3 separate regions of the Homo sapiens genome follow, and regions 2 and 3 are each linked to region 1. Evidence: fine-mapped expression QTL. A gene starts in region 1. Each other region holds a variant in brackets. All regions are shown on one strand. Distances are between the middles of the regions. Region 1 holds the start of COL4A3 (collagen type IV alpha 3 chain). Region 2 overlaps COL4A3 (collagen type IV alpha 3 chain). Region 3 overlaps COL4A3 (collagen type IV alpha 3 chain).

Evidence for each region.
Region 2: its variant is fine-mapped to the expression of COL4A3 in skeletal muscle (FUSION, PIP 0.95).
Region 3: its variant is fine-mapped to the expression of COL4A3 in thyroid (GTEx, PIP above 0.99).

Annotation. Positions count from the first base shown.
Region 1 is chr2:227,161,200-227,166,778 of GRCh38, forward strand. It overlaps COL4A3 (collagen type IV alpha 3 chain), which reads left to right and starts at 3,425. Exons shown (of 52, transcript NM_000091.5): 1 at 3,425-3,614. The coding sequence starts at 3,528. It overlaps COL4A4 (collagen type IV alpha 4 chain), which reads right to left and starts at 3,006. Exons shown (of 48, transcript NM_000092.5): 1 at 2,808-3,006. RefSeq lists enhancers at 2,333-3,234, 2,509-2,608 and silencers at 2,879-3,258, 3,479-3,658.
Region 2 is chr2:227,189,015-227,194,593 of GRCh38, forward strand. All of the region lies in intron 1 of COL4A3 (collagen type IV alpha 3 chain), which reads left to right. Among named protein-coding and RNA genes, the nearest start is that of COL4A3, 27 kb to the left of the region's middle. RefSeq lists an enhancer at 1,709-2,908. The variant G/A (reference allele first, on the strand shown) is at 2,638.
Region 3 is chr2:227,225,190-227,230,768 of GRCh38, forward strand. All of the region lies in intron 1 of COL4A3 (collagen type IV alpha 3 chain), which reads left to right. MFF-DT (MFF divergent transcript) reads right to left here. Exons shown (of 14, transcript NR_102371.1): 11 at 3,292-3,443; 12 at 2,581-2,703. Among named protein-coding and RNA genes, the nearest start is that of COL4A3, 63 kb to the left of the region's middle. The variant C/A (reference allele first, on the strand shown) is at 2,554.

The DNA of each region.
Region 1 (5,579 bases):
AACATCAGTAAAGAACACAAAAATGGCCCCTGCCCTAATGGGGCTTACATTGAAATGTAGTGAAGCAGACACAACTATTTAAACAGTGTGTAGAAAACGGACATGATACTGTGAAAACAAATTACATAGGACTTGTCAAAGACAATAACCACTCATTTTGTTTAAAACTCCTACATGGCATCAAAGTAAAAAAATAGAGACCTCTGTGTCCTTTGAATGTACGAAAAGAACCATCCTCCTTTCCTCTTGCTGTTTTACATTTAAAGAACCAACTGTGAAAAATCAACTCTCTTGACCCAAAGACAATTTTTTTAACAATCAAGCCTTCCAGTTAATTAACACCACCTGTTTGTTTGACAGGTGAGCCTGTCAAACATTGTTCTAAATGTGGCAGGTGGGGAATAGGTGGTTAAATGTGGCTTTTAGATAAGCAACTTCTCAGAGTTTTAAGTACCAGGTGCATACGAATCACCTGGAGATCTTGGTGAATGTGGGATCTGATTCAGTGGATCCAGAGTGAGACCAGAGACTCTACATTTCCAGCAAGCTCCCAGGGAGGCCAATGCTGCTGGTCCCAAGGGATGCCAAGGCAAGGTTCTAGAGGCCTTGGAAGTGTATTAACCTCAAGGGAGTTCATAGGCTATGCTTGCCTCCAGCCATTTTAGTACTGAGCTCAGAAGAGCATCTCTACCACGTGCCACCATTTCTCATCAGGGCCACCTATTTTCCTTTGTACAAAAAAAAAAAAAGAATCAAATTTCACTATGTGACTACTGTGTGAAGATTCTGCACAAAGGGTTTTTGCTATCTCATTAGATTCCAACAACTCCCTGAGGTGGGTATGGTGAGTATGTCTATTTTATAGAAGGAAGACTCCAGCCCAGAGAGGTTAGGTCACACTAGTAAGTATGGAAAGGATTCAAAACTCCAGAGTCTACTCCAGAGGTCAAGCTCTCCAGCATTGCCTCTTTCTTGCTGTATTTACATCACAAGTTTCTTTCCAGCTCTGTATCTGCAACAGAAATGACTTGCAGTTGACTATTACTTCCTGTTCCAAAATTGATAAAACCAAGTCTAGTCCTCCAACAAAATGACTTGGTTTCAGGAAAAGGCAATTAAAATTCAAATTGAGGAATCTTCTGGAATTTGGCAAAGAGAAGCATTTAACATTAGCATTGAGATTTTTTTGTTTGTACTTTTTAAAATTAAATACTGTCAGTTTGTGAAACATAATCATGTGACTCTCAGAACTCTTGGACACTGTCACCTCATCAACAGAACACCTACCGTTTCATTCCACAAGAGTGGCAGAAGTTTCCAGAAGAACCTTCCCTACCAATGGAAAGAAGCTACTGCATACCACACAGCAACATCTGCGATATGGTCATAAATTCCGCAGTGTTCCCAAGTTGTAATGAAGAGTTTAATATATGTGCTTTTTATTATTCTACTAAGAATATATCCTAATTCAACATGTGCGTGAAATTTTCACATGTTCGTGAAAACAGGAGCTCTCATACTTGATTGTGCATGGGAATGTACAGGAAATTTTAAAACAGCTAGAGAGTCTGATAAAATTGGCTTGGAATGGTCTGGGTAGCAACATTGTTTTATCCTCCCAAAGATTCTAATGCACAACGATAGTTGAGAATCACTGGCATAAAAGACAGAAAGAAGACTGTAAGATTCATGCTATAGTCAAAATAAAAAGAATGGGAGGAGTGTCTTCATTCACTGTTAGGGTTTTGCCTACCTGCATGGCTACAAAGTTCTAAGATACCAATAGATCCCAAATTTAACTGCAAGCAAGTGGTTCCCTAAAATCAGTGACCAACTGCATGATCATACTTGGTGTCTGAAGCCAATTGCAGCAAATATCAGCAACACTGTTCCAAAGCAAAGATTCTTAACCTGAGGATGGAATTCAGGTGATCTGTATAGGAAACTCACATAGGAAAATAAGTTGCATCTTTACTTTTAGTAACATGTCACAGAAGTTCAACATGTCCTTCCCTTATGAGCACAGGCAACAGAGCACAGTAGTATTGGCAGTTCTTGATAATTTGCACCCACCGGTATTTTCATGTCACATTTCAGTTTGGGCTATTATCTCAAAATACCATTTGCAGACATCACTACTTTGACATTACTGTTGCTTAATCGGCCTGCTGTTAAATCAAGCTATTTAATGCAATAATGATGATGCACCTGTGTTAGTTACTATATCACGACTTGAGGACTTCCATAATTGCATTCCAATAAAACTGATTCTGATTTAATTGTATTTTATGCATTTCACAACATTCTTCTGAGAAACAGTCTAATTGCTTTACCAGAGCCAGTGTGGTCCGTAGCACAGGAAACGGCGAGAGCCGGCTGGAGGACCGTGCCCTGGCACATTTGCATCGCAGGCCACCCCCAGGAAGAGCGCACCCTGACCAGAGCTGAGTCTTGTTTTGCCCTGCATTTCCGCAGATAAGATTTGGCCTGAAAAGCAGTTCAACTCAGCGGAGAATAAGATGGGCTTTCTCTTTCTCCTCAGCTGCCTCTTTCTCTTGGCATTTTGGAGTGCCCCGACTGCCAGGCCGGTAACTCGAGCCTCCAAATTAATCAAAACACACAGCACCCAGTTAAAGCCCAGGCAGACAAGCCCAGGAGCCAGACGCGCTCTCCTCTGGTGACCCCCGGGCCACAACTCCCCAGCTGGGCCCGCCACCACCCCTTGAATGCCACGCTCCCTCCACTGCCCCTCCCAGGCAGGTGCCGGGGCCCCGGGACAGCGGTTGCCCCACCTATGGGCGCCTTACCTGTGGGGACGCCCGCAGCGCCAGGAGCTGCCGCCTTGCCACCCCACGGGACGCGCACCTCCAGCCCCAATCCACCCGCGCCCCGCTGCCTCTTCGCGGCGCTCTCGCAGCCAAGCCCGGCGGCCGCAAGTTGGAGGCGGGCTGGAGGCGGGGAACGCGGACCGCCGCGGGCGCGGGGAACAAGCGGGGCCTCCCGAGTGCAGACGCCCGGCGCGCCTCCCGCTTAATCTGGGCAGGGCCGCTGGCCACTCCCTCCACCCTGCGCAGCCACCTCCCCACCGCGCAGCCACCTCCCCACCGCACACCCCCAAACGCCCCACCTCCGACCGCACCCCACTTCCCCGCCTGGGCCCCCGGACCTTGGGAGCATCACCTCCTTAACCCCTTACCCTGGATCCGCGCCCACCTGCCCCTCAGGCGCCCAGCCCTTTCTCGCCTCCTGGGCACGATGCCCGGGTAGAAGGGACACTGCCTGGTAAGTTGGGAGGGAGGGGGTATGAGGGCGGGACCTGAGCCACGTCTTCCCTCCCTTGAAGCCACAACCAAAAAGCCTGGGTGGGGAGGGACGAACCGCGCGACCGAGCCCTACAAAACCCGCCCCGGCCGAGTGGCGAGGCGAGCTTTCCAGCCGGGCTCCCAGAGCCGCGCTGCGCAGGAGACGCGGTGGCCTGAGAGCCTGAGGGTCCCCGGACTCGCCCAGGCTCTGAGCGCGCGCCCACCATGAGCGCCCGGACCGCCCCCAGGCCGCAGGTGCTCCTGCTGCCGCTCCTGCTGGTGCTCCTGGCGGCGGCGCCCGCAGCCAGCAAGGTGAGTGGGGGCTGCGCGACCCCCACCCCCGCACTTCCATCCCTCCTCCACGCGTCCGGGGGACGCGCTGGCCCCACCCGCAGCGGCGCGGTAGTGGAGCGGCTGCCGGGCTAGTGGCGAGGCTGAGGGCTTCACGCAGGTCCCGGGACAGGCAGCGAGCGGAAGGGAGCAAGCGGGGATGCCCCGGAACAGGTGGAATGCGCGGGGCTGGGGGAAGAGGCGAGGAGGGGGCTTGTCCAGTGCCTAGGAGTCAGGGATGGCGGGGACAGGCCTCCAGAGGTCAGTAAATTAAAAAATAGACACATAGATAATCGCCAGGGATGATACGTGAGAACACCGGATGTGGAGATGCACGGTGTCACGCTGGTGAATCAAATCAAGCAGCTTGGCCCAGCGCACAGAGGGCTGGCAGGAGACACCTGCAGGGAGTCCCAGCCGCCACTTCCTAGCTGGGACGTCACACTAAACCCTGACCTCTCTGGGGCTCAGTTTCTTCCTTGCAAAACTTGCCCTCCAGTTTTCCTTTGCTATTGTTGGGAAAAGCAAATGCTATCACTGAAAAATTAAGAGCACCTTAGAAATCGAACTCAGGTTAGAATCATTTAAGCAATCTGACACTTTGATTTGATTTTTGACTTGGAATTTGAGTGAAACTGGATTTATTTAAATCCATCCCATATTTCTTATTCTTTGCCATTAAATAGAAATTGATTGTCCTCAAAACGATTGTGCCTCCTAGAGTTGACTCACTTGATTTTACCTTGTGAAAGTAAACTTTAACTTTTCAGATACTTGTTATTTTTACACTTTAAAAAGTTGATTTGGGTGATAACGTGGCATAGGAAATTTCATTTCCAAGGATGAGCAGATGTTTTTACAAATGTTATCATTGAGATTATGATTGGAAATTAACGGTCACATAAATATTTATATATGTTACATGAAAAGAATTTTAGAACCTATGGTCACATATAGGTTCTATATGTTTTTCCTATTTAAATTAAATGAAGACATTGCAGACATTATAGGTGAAACTAAAGCCCTCTCTGACACCCCCCATACCTCTCCCCATTTCCTTGTCTTCCAAGAGGTGTCCACTTTCACCACTTTCATATTTCATGTAGTTTTCCAAACATTGTCCATGAATTTACACACACACATATGAACCCACAAACATATATGTATGTTTTTGTTGGCCTTTTAACATAAATGATACTGTGCTGTATTCCTTTGCAACCTGTAGACCAGTCCATGTCAGTATTTAAGATCCTCCTGTTTTTCTTTTTGCTTTGTTGCACAGTATTTCACAATATGCCAAAGTTAATTGAACCATTTCCCTATCAGTTTACATTTAGATTATTCACTGTTTCACATTCTAAAGGACATTTGTAATCTATGTAATCTGTTTGTGTAGCTGGTTCTAACAAAAATGCACTTTGCATACATTAGGAATTCCCAGACCAGGTATTTAAATGCTACTAGGCATGATAGATAAAACTCAGTGGGGATTATCTACCAGCTTTAACCAGGACAAATAAATCCAAAAAAGCAAAATCCTAAAGGAAATGTGTGTTGTGGGGAAGCCTGGAGAAGAGATCCAGAGCAGGGTTTGCACATGTTTCTGAATTTAGAAGAACAGGAATGAGATTGGGAAGGGGTGGAAGAATTGTACTTATGTGAGGATCAGCCTGAAAAAGTAATGCTTGGGGACCATGCAAACTCTAGTTATACCATTTTCAATTCTGTTGTTACATTCCTTTGTTATTTTTACATGTAAACTTTTCTGTTTTGAGTTTGGCCAAATCTTGGTGACTTCTTGCTGAAATTAATCCATTTGTATTGTTTTTCTCATCACTTGAAGTAAGTCTTTCATTAACAAGTTTTCAGGATTATCATTTCCAGTGTACCTGCTGGGTTAGAGAGAAAATATGCCAGTAAAATAATGAAATGTGCCTTCATCTTGTA
Region 2 (5,579 bases), 28 kb after region 1:
AATCTAGCCAGGAAGGATGGGAGGAGAGACTCTTCCATATACAGAAAACAGCCCATGTTGGCTTGGGATTCTGTTTGAGCACCAGAGAGAAGGTGAGTGTCTGGAGGGAGAGAGGCCAGGGGAGGAAGGAAAAGGGAGCTGGGGAGAAAGGCAGGGCTCCATCCTGTAGTGTCATAAGAAGGAGTTTGACCTTGATCCTTAGAGGAATGGAGAGCACAGAAAAATCTTGAGCAGATCAGAAACATCATGAGATTTGTGCTTTGGAAAGAGACCCTGGTTGTGGTGTGGGAAATGGATTAGAGGTGAGCAAGAGAGGAGGTGGGTAGAACACAGAGAAGCAGAGGCAAGGTGTGGTGGTGATCCCCGTGAGACAAGGAGGTGGCCAAAAGGAACACAGTGACCAAGAGGGTGGAAAGAAGCAAGCAGATCTGTGAGTTTTTTGGTCTAATCAACGTGATGTGGTGATGACTGATAGATGACTCTGCACCCTCCCAAATTTAGCATCAAAGAACTGCTCACCCAGAGACTTGTGCTACATTCGTGTTACAAGTTAGTATCGGTAAAAAGCCTGTCCATTTCACTATATTAGTATGCATTTCTTTTATCAAGTAAGACCTAAATAACCCAGAGTTCTAATTTGCAGGCTTGAAATTGTAAGTAACCTAAAACTCTCCATTCAAAATAGAGTAAACCATTTTACATATATTTATTTGCTTCCATAATTTAAAAATTTAGAAGTCATGGAGGTTTCAGGTGAGGCTGGACCTAGCATTTCAAAGATATCATCAAAGACCAGGTTTCCTTCACCCCTTGTCTTCACATGATGTCTGCTTCATCCTAAGATTGCTTTCCCTCGTGGTCTCAGCCATATACTTCTCTGTGTTATTCTGCTATGAAGACAAGCCATTTCTACCAGTAATTCTTCCCCCCAAATCAGGAAGTTTCCTTTCCCAGAAATCATCAGAGAAAAACTTTGGAGTTGCATGCTCTAACGCCATAACAGTGGCTAGGTAGATGGATGTGCTTCTACCAAGAGAAAGGAAGAATGTCAGGTGGAAAAAAAAAGAAAAAAAAGCAAACATCCCCTGCATTCAGCACATTCCCTGATGCATCTTAGCTGCAGTCACTATTCATAAATGAGTTGAAAAATTCATCAAACAAGAATACATTGAGATCAATTGTCATATTTTAAATGCAAGGCACATGCAGGTCCCTCAAGAGCTGGAGGTAACTCAAGAGAGTGATGCTTCTCCCTTACTGCCATCTTGGCGTGCCTGCTCCATGATACTATATTTCCTCTGCTGGCTCTGCAAACATGCCTTGAATTCCATTTCTTGCAGATCCTGACTCCCTTTTAAAATATGGACATGCATGATGCTTCTCACAACAGTCTGTACCCATTCCTGAGGAACTAAAATGGAAACACTTCTACAGTCTGAAGCAAACACATAAATAGATATGTTTTATATGTCATCTAGGAATATATACATATCAGTTTATTATTTCGGATCAAAATATGTAACAGAAGAGGGACTTTGTGTATTCTTTGAGGTTGAAATGTATCACTAATTAAAACAAAGTGTATTAATTATTTTCTATTATAAAAGTAATAGGTAGTCTGGGCATCGTGGCTCTAATCCCAGCACTTTGGGGAGGCCAAGGCAGGCAGATTGCTTGAGCTCAGGAGTTTGAGAGCAGCCTGGCCAACATGGCGAAACCTCGTCTCTACAAAAAATTAAAAAATTAGTCAGGCCTGGTGGCACACACCTGTAGTCCCAGCTACTCAGAAGGCTGATGTGGGAGGATCGCTTGACACCAAGAGGTGAAGGTTTCAGTGAGCCAAGACCATGCCACTGCACTCCAGACTGGGTAACAGTAATATGTCATAACTAATGAAAATGTGCAAAATTCTGAAAAGTTAAAAGGAAAAAAGCAAATCATAGTTTACTACTTAAGGACAATATCATTAATGTTTTTAGCATCTTCTTCTAGCACTTCTATTATGTATAGAATTTTTTAAAAAATAGATGCAAAGGTTATTATATATGAAATTTTATGTCTTTTTTCTCTTAAAAATAGACTACATAAATAATACGTATATGGCCATGGAAACAATTTTTGACATTTAAATTTTCTCAACCACTTTGCTCTTTTTGGATACTTGGGGAATAACAAAATTTTTATTATTATAAGTAATACTGCTATGATCATGCCAATGACACTCTGCTTGATTTGGAAGTACATTCCTCGTACACATTCCCAGAAATGGATTTTTTTTTTGTAAAGGACGCAAAAGTTTAAGACTGTTGGCATATACAAAAGACCTATTTTCTGAATTCAGACTTTAGGCAAAAACAAAAAATTTAAGTGGGTGAGGGGGCAGGAAGAACAATAAAGAAAGCTAAGAAGTGTTTTGAAAAGCAGTTCACAAAATCACTCTTTACCAGCCACATACAAATGTTGAATGGCTCCATCCACGGTGCATTTGTGGAGCTCCCCTGTTGGCCATTCCCCGCATCAAGGATTCAAAGAACCTGCCAAGGGGCTGCAATGGGAGATTACAGTGACTCAGCAAATCAGGATGATCAGATTTCAAAGTCGGCCAAATAACTCATCTTGGAGACAGATGTAGCTGAA[G/A]TTTTACATTATGGCCTGCAAGAAACTTTATTCTAATAAAAGACAACTGTGTTTACAACTACTGGGCATATCTCAGGTTACCTTAAATGAAAATCATTTTCTTATTTTTGTAATTATGAAGGCTAAAAATAAAGATTTTTTTCATAATTAGTTTCTGGAACGCTAATAATAAGAAGAACTTAGAATATTACAGATTCTCTTACAAAACACAAAGACCTTGGAATAAATTTGGCAATTTCTTCAACAGCAGTGCCCTTATCAAAAACAGACACTTGAGAATTGTGGAAAGGGAAAAAAATTATCGAAGGAAAGTCATATTTCCTTAAATTTCTCTGTGAATGTGTACAGTGAATTTCTTCATCTCTAAAGCAAATCTTTAAAAAGGAAGAATTTGCTCTAAATTCAAGCATTCATTTTTATCTCTCTGTGCTCAAGTATTCATTTTTATCTCTCTTTGCTTTTGACACAGAGTATAAACGGTAATTATACCATCCAGTTGCAAAACGTCATTGAAAAACAGATGGTAAATTAATCCCAAACAATTATTACTCCAGGTTCTGACTATCAATTTTGTCTTGAACAGCTTGTCTAAACCTAGTTATAGAATTGTGAAGAAGGCTAAGTTTGTGTCTGGTTGTTGTCTTTCTCCCCTACCATTTTATTAAATATTTAATTTCTTCATGTGCACATAATGCTTTGAAATGTTAGATGTGGTTTAGCACACACTATCATATTTGACTTGCTCATTTCATTTTCCTCAGACCCTGACCAGGGCAGGATGAAAACCAACCTTTTCATCTCTACCCTCTTTTCATCTCAGCTAATTGTGGAATCAAATGATGCTGTATACATAAATGTGAACCCCTGTCCCACCCTTGGTATTGGGGCTTTGAAAGTCTTCAAACCCCACCACAATGGTGGTTGTATGGAGATCACTTGACGGTCTCATGTGCCCCAAGTCCTCAATCTCTGCAAGTGTCCCTTGGGACTTTGCTCAGTGTGTGTTTGTGGTAGTTGTTGTAGTGAAGGGTGGGGAGAAGGTTAGGGGTGTCCTGGAGGGCAGGGAGAGAGGTTTCATTGTCCCCTGGGGAGTGAGTGTGAATCATGAATGAACAATCCTTGACGAATCGAGTCAACCCAAATAAGAGTTTGGAACAGTGTTTCTCAAACTTTCTATAGTGAAGAAAATTTTGTTTTGTTTTTACATTTCCATTATATTGTGAGCCAATACTTTCTTAAAATATAAGAATAAAAAATTAAAAGAAAATGAAATTAAAAGATATAAAATATAAGCCCAAATATTTTAATCAGCATAAAATCACTCTATCAAATCACTCTAAGCTTTCTAAATGCTTACTTTCAATTTCTATATTTACCTTGTCATAGGTAAGAAACTGAGACCCATGCTTTGAGATGCACTAGTTTAGAGAAACTGAATAATGCAATTAAAAAGTTTCACCTGATAGGACTAAGTGCATCTCCTCCCTACAAGGATACATCTTCATTCCCAGTGCTCATAGAATATTTATAAAAATGGACCATAATTTGACCACAAAGAAACAATGAAGGAATTCTACAAATTAGATAAACTTATGGAACTGGATGAAGAATCAAAATCTGTTTACAATGCAATAAAATTTAAAACAACGACAGCAAAAGGCCTACCTATGCATTTTAAATCTTTTTCCTAAATAACTCTTAGTTTAAGGAAGGACTCAAGATCACAATGGCAGGATGTTTAAATAAATATTCATGATGCAAAGATTAGAAATAAAATCCTGGCTGGGCACGGCGGCTCACGCCTGTAATCCTAGCACTTGGGGAGGCCGAGGTGGGCGGATCACAAGGTCAGGAGTTGGAGACCATCCTGGCCAACATGATGAAACCCCATCTCTACTAAAAATACAAAAATTAGCCAGGCGTGGTTGTGCATGCCTGTAATCCCAGCTACTTGGGAGGTTGAGGCAGGAGAATCTCTTGAACCAGGGAGACTGAAGTTGCAGTGAGCCGAGATTGCACCAGTGCACTCCAGCCTGGTGACAGAGTGAGGCAAAAGAAGAAAAAAGAAAGAAAGAAGGAAGGAGGGAGGGAGGGAGGGAAGGAAGGAAGGAAGGAAGGAAGGAAGGAAGGAAGGAAGGAAGGAAGGAAGGGGAGGGAGGGAGGGAAGGAAAGGAAGGAAGGAAGGGGAGAGAAGGAGAGGAGAAGGAGAAGGGAAATAAGGAGAGAGGGAGGGAGGAAGGAAGGAAGGAAGGGGAGAGAAGGAGAGGAGAAGGAGAAGGGAAATAAGGAGAGAGGGAGGGAGGAAGGAAGGAAGGAAGGAAGGGGAGAGAAGGAGAAGGAGAGGAGAAAGAGAAGGGAAGGAAGGAGAGAAGAAGGAAGGAAGGGGAGAGAAAGAGAAGGAGAGGAGAAGGAGAAGGGAAGTAAGGAGAGAGGGAGGGAGGAAAGAAGGAAGGAAGGAAGGAAGAGTCCTATGGGTTATGTTCCAAAGAGTCTTCTGAAGAAAATGCATACCTGTTATATCATCAGCATCCCAATAAGAAACCCACGACACACTCACAATTGGATAATTTGAGAAGTTTATTTATAGAGACACTGTTTACAAAGGTGAGGTTCAGGTAAACCGTCTGAGATAGTTCAACAGACAAGTTATTTCCACCACTGCTCCCTTTCCTGGATCTAAGAAAGAGAGTGGTATTGAGTTGGCCACAATCAATGAGGGCTGAGGGGTGAGGGGCTGTGAGGGAGGGACCAGGTGCTCAAGGTAGCCCTGCAGGGAGGGAGCCAGGAAAGTAGAGGCCCTGACCTCGCTCTGCTCCTTCCCTCTCTCTGATCTTTTGCCAGAAGCCTGAAAGCTCAGGACCCCCTTGTGGGAGCCCCTTTCTGTGGTCCTCATGGTCAGCCCCTTAAGACAAGGAGCAGGCCTGGAAGGAGGAGTGAAAGTT
Region 3 (5,579 bases), 64 kb after region 1:
GCCACCTGGCCTAAACTTTGGTTTTGTAAATAACATTTTCAAAGATTTTTTTTCAAATGGTCCTATGAATAGACAAACCAGGCACATGACCTAAGAAGTCCCATCCGCCTTAATATGCGTCTCCACCTGCCAGCCTGCAGCTCGAATTTTCCATCACTTGTGGCACTGGTGGCAGCTTTCTGTCTTTTTTGTTTGTTTTAAGAGGTAATGTTTTCTGAAAAATGTGTCAGTTCCCAGGCGGATTTTTAAAAATTAACCCATTAGCATCATGTCTCTCGATAAGATTAGTTTACTTTCACCTCTCAGACAGAAGACCCTGCAGCAGCAGGTGACAAAGCAAAGAGTGACCAACAAGAGAGAGTGGAGGTGGGTGTGGCTAATTTAGTGGTTCCCAGTGCAGGGTTGCACCAGGCCAAAGCAAGTGAGAAAAATAAGAACGAGGTAGAGATTTTTTTTTTTAATCAAGTAAAATGGGAGCTTTTTATCAAGTTCCCATGTTAAGGGAACAGCTTTTTCTTTCTTTTTTTTTTTTTTTTTTGTTGAGACAGATCTCACCCTGTCTCCCAGACTGGAGTGTAGTGATGTAACCTCTGCTTACTGCAACCTCCACCTCCCAGGTTGAAGCGATTCTCTTGCCTTAGCCACCCGAGTACCTGGGACTATAATTACACTCCACCATGCCCGGCTAACTTTTGTATTTTTAGTAGAGACAGGGTTTCACCCTGTTGGCCAGGCTGGTCTTGAACTCCTGACTTCAAGTAATCCACCCGCCTCGGCTTCCCAAAGTGCTGGGATTACAGTCGTGAGCCACCATGCCCAGCCAGGAACATATTTTATTCTGTGGGCATTTTACTTGCTTTATGGTATCTTAATTTTTCTCTGGAATATGAGGACAGTAGATGAGAGGTCTGCTGTGGTTTGGGGGGTGGGTGATTGTGTTGGTTTGTGTTTGGAGGTGGCCATTGCTCTTATATTGAAAAATATAACTAAGACAGCCCTCTGTTTGTCTTCCTTTTAAGACACATTTATTTTATTGCCCTGTGAAGTTCAAAACATGAAGAACTTTTGGACTAGAGGATCTGCTGGGTTCTTCCAGTCCCCAAATTGTATTCCCTGTGTCCCCCAAGCTCTGGACAGAAGCACAGTGGGAGAAGGGGAGGCACATGGGGGTAGGCGGACAGAAAGAAGAGACAGGTCCCAGTCTGCCATTCCAAGGTAGAAGACCATCTCTCACTGGAACTCACAGCTGATCTCTTCTTTAAGTTTCTATTCTAATGTTAGGTTTGTTTTTTTTTTTTTAGATGGAGTCTTGCTCTGTTGCCCAGGCTGGAGTACAGTGGTGCAATCTTTGCTTACTGTAACCTTCACCTACTAGGTTCAAGCAATTCTCCTGCCTCAGCCACCCAGGTAGCTGGGATTATAGGCACTCAACATCATGCCAAACTAATTTTTGTATTTTTAGTAGAGACGGGGTTTCCCCCAGTTGGCCAGGCTGGCCTTGAACTCCTGACCTCAGGTGATCTACCTGCCTCGGCCTCCCAAAGTGCTGAGATTATAGGCATGAGCCACCGCACCTGGCCTCTATCTTAATTTTTAATGCAATTTTTATATTGCCATAGAAAAAATATAATGAAGATAATTTGTACCAGGAATCACCAAGCTTTTCCCATAAAGAGCCACGTAGTAAATATTTTAGGCTTTGCAAGCCAAGAGGCAAAATGAAGGCTACTATGCAGATACCTATATAACAAGAGAGAAAATAAATATCCACAACATTTGTATTGATGAAATGCAAACTTATGGACATTGAGATTTAAAGTTTATATAATTTTCACATTACAAAATGTTATTTCTCTCTTAATTTTGTTTCAACCATGAAAAATATAAAAACCAGTCTTAGCTCATAGGCCGGATGGAAACAGGCAGAGGGCTGGATTTGTCCTGCAAGCTGCTGTCTGCCAAGTCCTGCATTATACAGCTAATTTCATGAGCTACTATGTTATGTTTTTCACTGGGATTTTACGTCCCATCATGAGGGGCACAGTGATAGGGTGAGAGGGGGAGAAACATACCCCTCCTCCCCCAGTGCCTTGTGGCCAGCAGAGCCCGTCAATAATGAAATACAGGCCGGGCACGCTGGCTCACGCCTGTAATCCCAGCACTTTGGGAGGCCGAGGTGGGTGGATCACTTGAGCTCAGGAGTTTGAGACCAGCCTGGCCAACATGGTGAAACCCCATCTCTACTGGAGAATCATTTGAACCTGGGAGGCAGAGGTTGCAGTCAGCCAATATTGCATCACTGCACTCCAGTCTGGGTGACAGAGCAAGACTCCATCTCAAAAAAAAAAAGAAGAAGAAGAAATGCAACACTGCACCTGAGAATATGACTGACCCTGGGTCAGACTGTCTCACCTGAATTCAGATCCCCACTCCCCATGTTCCTTACTATCCTTAGCCTCTCAAAATCCTAGGTTTCTCATCTATTAGATGGAGCTTATAACAGTACCTCCCTTACAGAATTGTTGTAAGATATAATGAGATAATATGAGACAG[C/A]CAGCACTGAAAGTGCTCAAAACATACTGAGATCATTACAGTGCTGATGGAAGTTCATTTCCTCTACCACCATCCTGATCAAGGGATCCCGTGGAGCCTATTTTTCTTACATGAATAGTGAAGTTTTCTCAGTCTTTCTGCATTCAAAACCTTTTAGGGGGTAAAAAGAAAAGAAAAAAAAAGGAACCTGGAGTTAATGATTATAGGTATACTTACCATTCTCTGCATTGCATAAGACGGGCAAAATTTTCTTACCATATTATTTATTCTCAAATGTACCAGAGAGCCCTCACTGCACCGTCTTTGTCAGAGTTAGTAATCTGTATGCTTGCTGTCATCCAGAAAATCAAAAACGGGTGGCTGGCTTACATGTCTAGACTAGTGATGTGTCTCTGGACGGGAGTTGAGGGATAGGAAGTGGCAGCTGCAGTGAGATTTCTTTGATGTCCAAGGGTGGTGACAGCAGCTTCAGGGCGGGGCAGGCGGGGGCATCCCGCAAAGCAGTCCATGGGTGTCATTCTTCTTCACTGGAGGGCATGGTGCCAGGGCACATGGTTGGTTGCTTAAGGCAGACACGGGCAGAGGCGGCCCTGCAGAGGACAGCTCGTGGCGTCTGTCTGGCACGGTTTGGCTATACTTGGTCAGCTCTTCTTTTCACACACAAAAACTTTCCCCTCAGGCTATTGGCTGGGCAGAGGGACTGGCAGGGTCAGTAATCATAATGCAAAATCAACAGACCTGCTCAGTAGGGTGTTAACCAGCTGTGAACGGTGCCAACTCCCCCTGCTATTAAACCAGGCTGGGCTGGGCTGGGCTGCGGGAGAGAGATTGGAGAAAGGCAGGGCAGGCCACGTCTGTTTCACCAGCATGCACAGGAACGAGCATGCTGGCTGTTGACAGTAGAGAGAGAAATAGTCAAGATTATTTGGAAATTATGTTCTGGTCTATTAATAAAAATGCATGTGCATATTTCCTGATCCTTTTAACGAACAATAAAAATGGATGTGTTTAATGAGATCCTTCATGAGTTTTAAGGATAAAAAGATAATTGTTTACAGTGCTAGGGGGATATAAGGAATTGTGAGACACCGTTCCCACCTGCAGTTTAGGGAAAGTGATAAACCCTCAACTCAGGAGCACCTAATGATCCATGTCAAGTCAATGAGTTAGTAACAGCCTACAGTAACAGCCCTCAGTGTATCCTATGAACTCTTCTAAGGGCTTACCTGTGCTAACCAATCTGACCCCATTTCACAGATGTGGAAACCGAGACACCTGAGACTGCCTAGACTCACAGAGGTGAGGTGGCAGAGCTGGGATTTAGACCCAGGAAGTACGTCTCTGGAACTGGTGCCCTTCACCCTGTACCACTTTGCCTCATAAGAGAAAGCGATGTGCAGGTGAGACATGGGTGGCACACGGGCACTGCGAGAATTGAGATCAAGAGAAGAGTGTGAGACCCAATTGATCCGCACTCCTGGAAGGCTTGCTGCCTTTGTGTAATATATTTGATCTGGCACCTTTCTTGGATAAGCATCAAGTACCATTGGGGTCTCTAACCAATATTTTGTTAAATAAAACATTGTAATGTGTCTGTGCTCTTAGGCAAATGATATTTGGTTAATCAACCAATATAGTCAGTGTACTCTAATAATACTATTAACAAATATGAGTTAATTCATTTATTGTTTGTTAGAGATAGATAACAGCAGTCTCTCACCCTTGCTCTTAGATTCAACACCAGTTCTTTGGCACTGGACAAGGGACTTCAAGAGGAAATGTCAGGGAGGAAGGTGGCTAGTGCAGACTGATGGAAGAAAGGATCAAACAATAGTTGTGGATGTCCTTTGGCTTGGAATCTTGAAAAGGAGAAAGGGGAGTCCCCCAGTGACTGAGTCCTTATTGAGTGCAGGGTACCAGGCAGGCTAGTGACAGCATCTCAACTCCTTACAAAAACACTGCAAGGTACATCCTAGTATCTCCCTTGACAGATGGGGGAACCTGGAAGGATTAAGAAATTTCCCGGCCGGGCGCGGTGGCTCACGCCTGTAATCCCAGCACTGTGGGAGGCCAAGGTGAGTGGATCACGAGGTCAGGAGATCGAGACCATCCTGGCTAACAGGGTGACACCCTGTGTCTACTAAAAAAAATACAAAAAATTAGCTGGGCGTGGTGGTGGGCGCCTATAGTCCCAGCTACTCGGGAGACTGAGGCAGGAGAATGGCGTGAACTCGGGAGGTGGAGCTTGCAGTGAGCCGAGACCGTGCCACTGCACTCCAGCCTGGGCAACAGAGCAAGACTCCATCTCAAAAAAAAAAAAAAAAGAAATTTCCCAAAGCTCCAGTTTGTAGCTACAATGCTGGGAGTAGACTCAACATAGATGGGTCCGTATATATTCAGTAGGTCCATACATACATGGCCTGTGATTTCTGGAATTCCAAACCTTTTTGGATTCTCTACAATGAAAGTTTATTTTGCATTTTAAGTAAGGCCGTAAAACAGAAATGCAACTGTGAAAAAGAATGATTTCCACAAGTTTAACTACTTAATATTCAAAAGTGCTAAAACATCATGTAATCTCGGGTCATTTCCTGATGGCAGGAGGGGGTTTAAAAGCCATAATATTATTATTAAGAGCTTTCTGTTCATGACAAATGATTTTGTATTCCATTAAGATATGAGGAAACTATGGGGTAATTTATTGCTGGAAGGAGAAAAATCATAAAAATGTTGCTTAAGAAATATCCATTAGTTATGCTTCCTTAATAGTTAGCCTTTGGCCATCCTGGTTTTTTATGTGATTTAACAGTTGAATAGTAATGAATGGGTTATTACTATTAAAGTAACCATAGTGTTTCAAAAAAATGGGTCCAACAATGTAGATGGATTAAAATCAATGAGAATAAAAATATGGACTCTGTATCTTTTAAATTAAATAATTCATTTGAATTTTTGAATTACTGAAACATTTGCAAATTGAAAATGTATTTAAGAAAAGACAGCATTAGTGAGAGAAATTAATATCA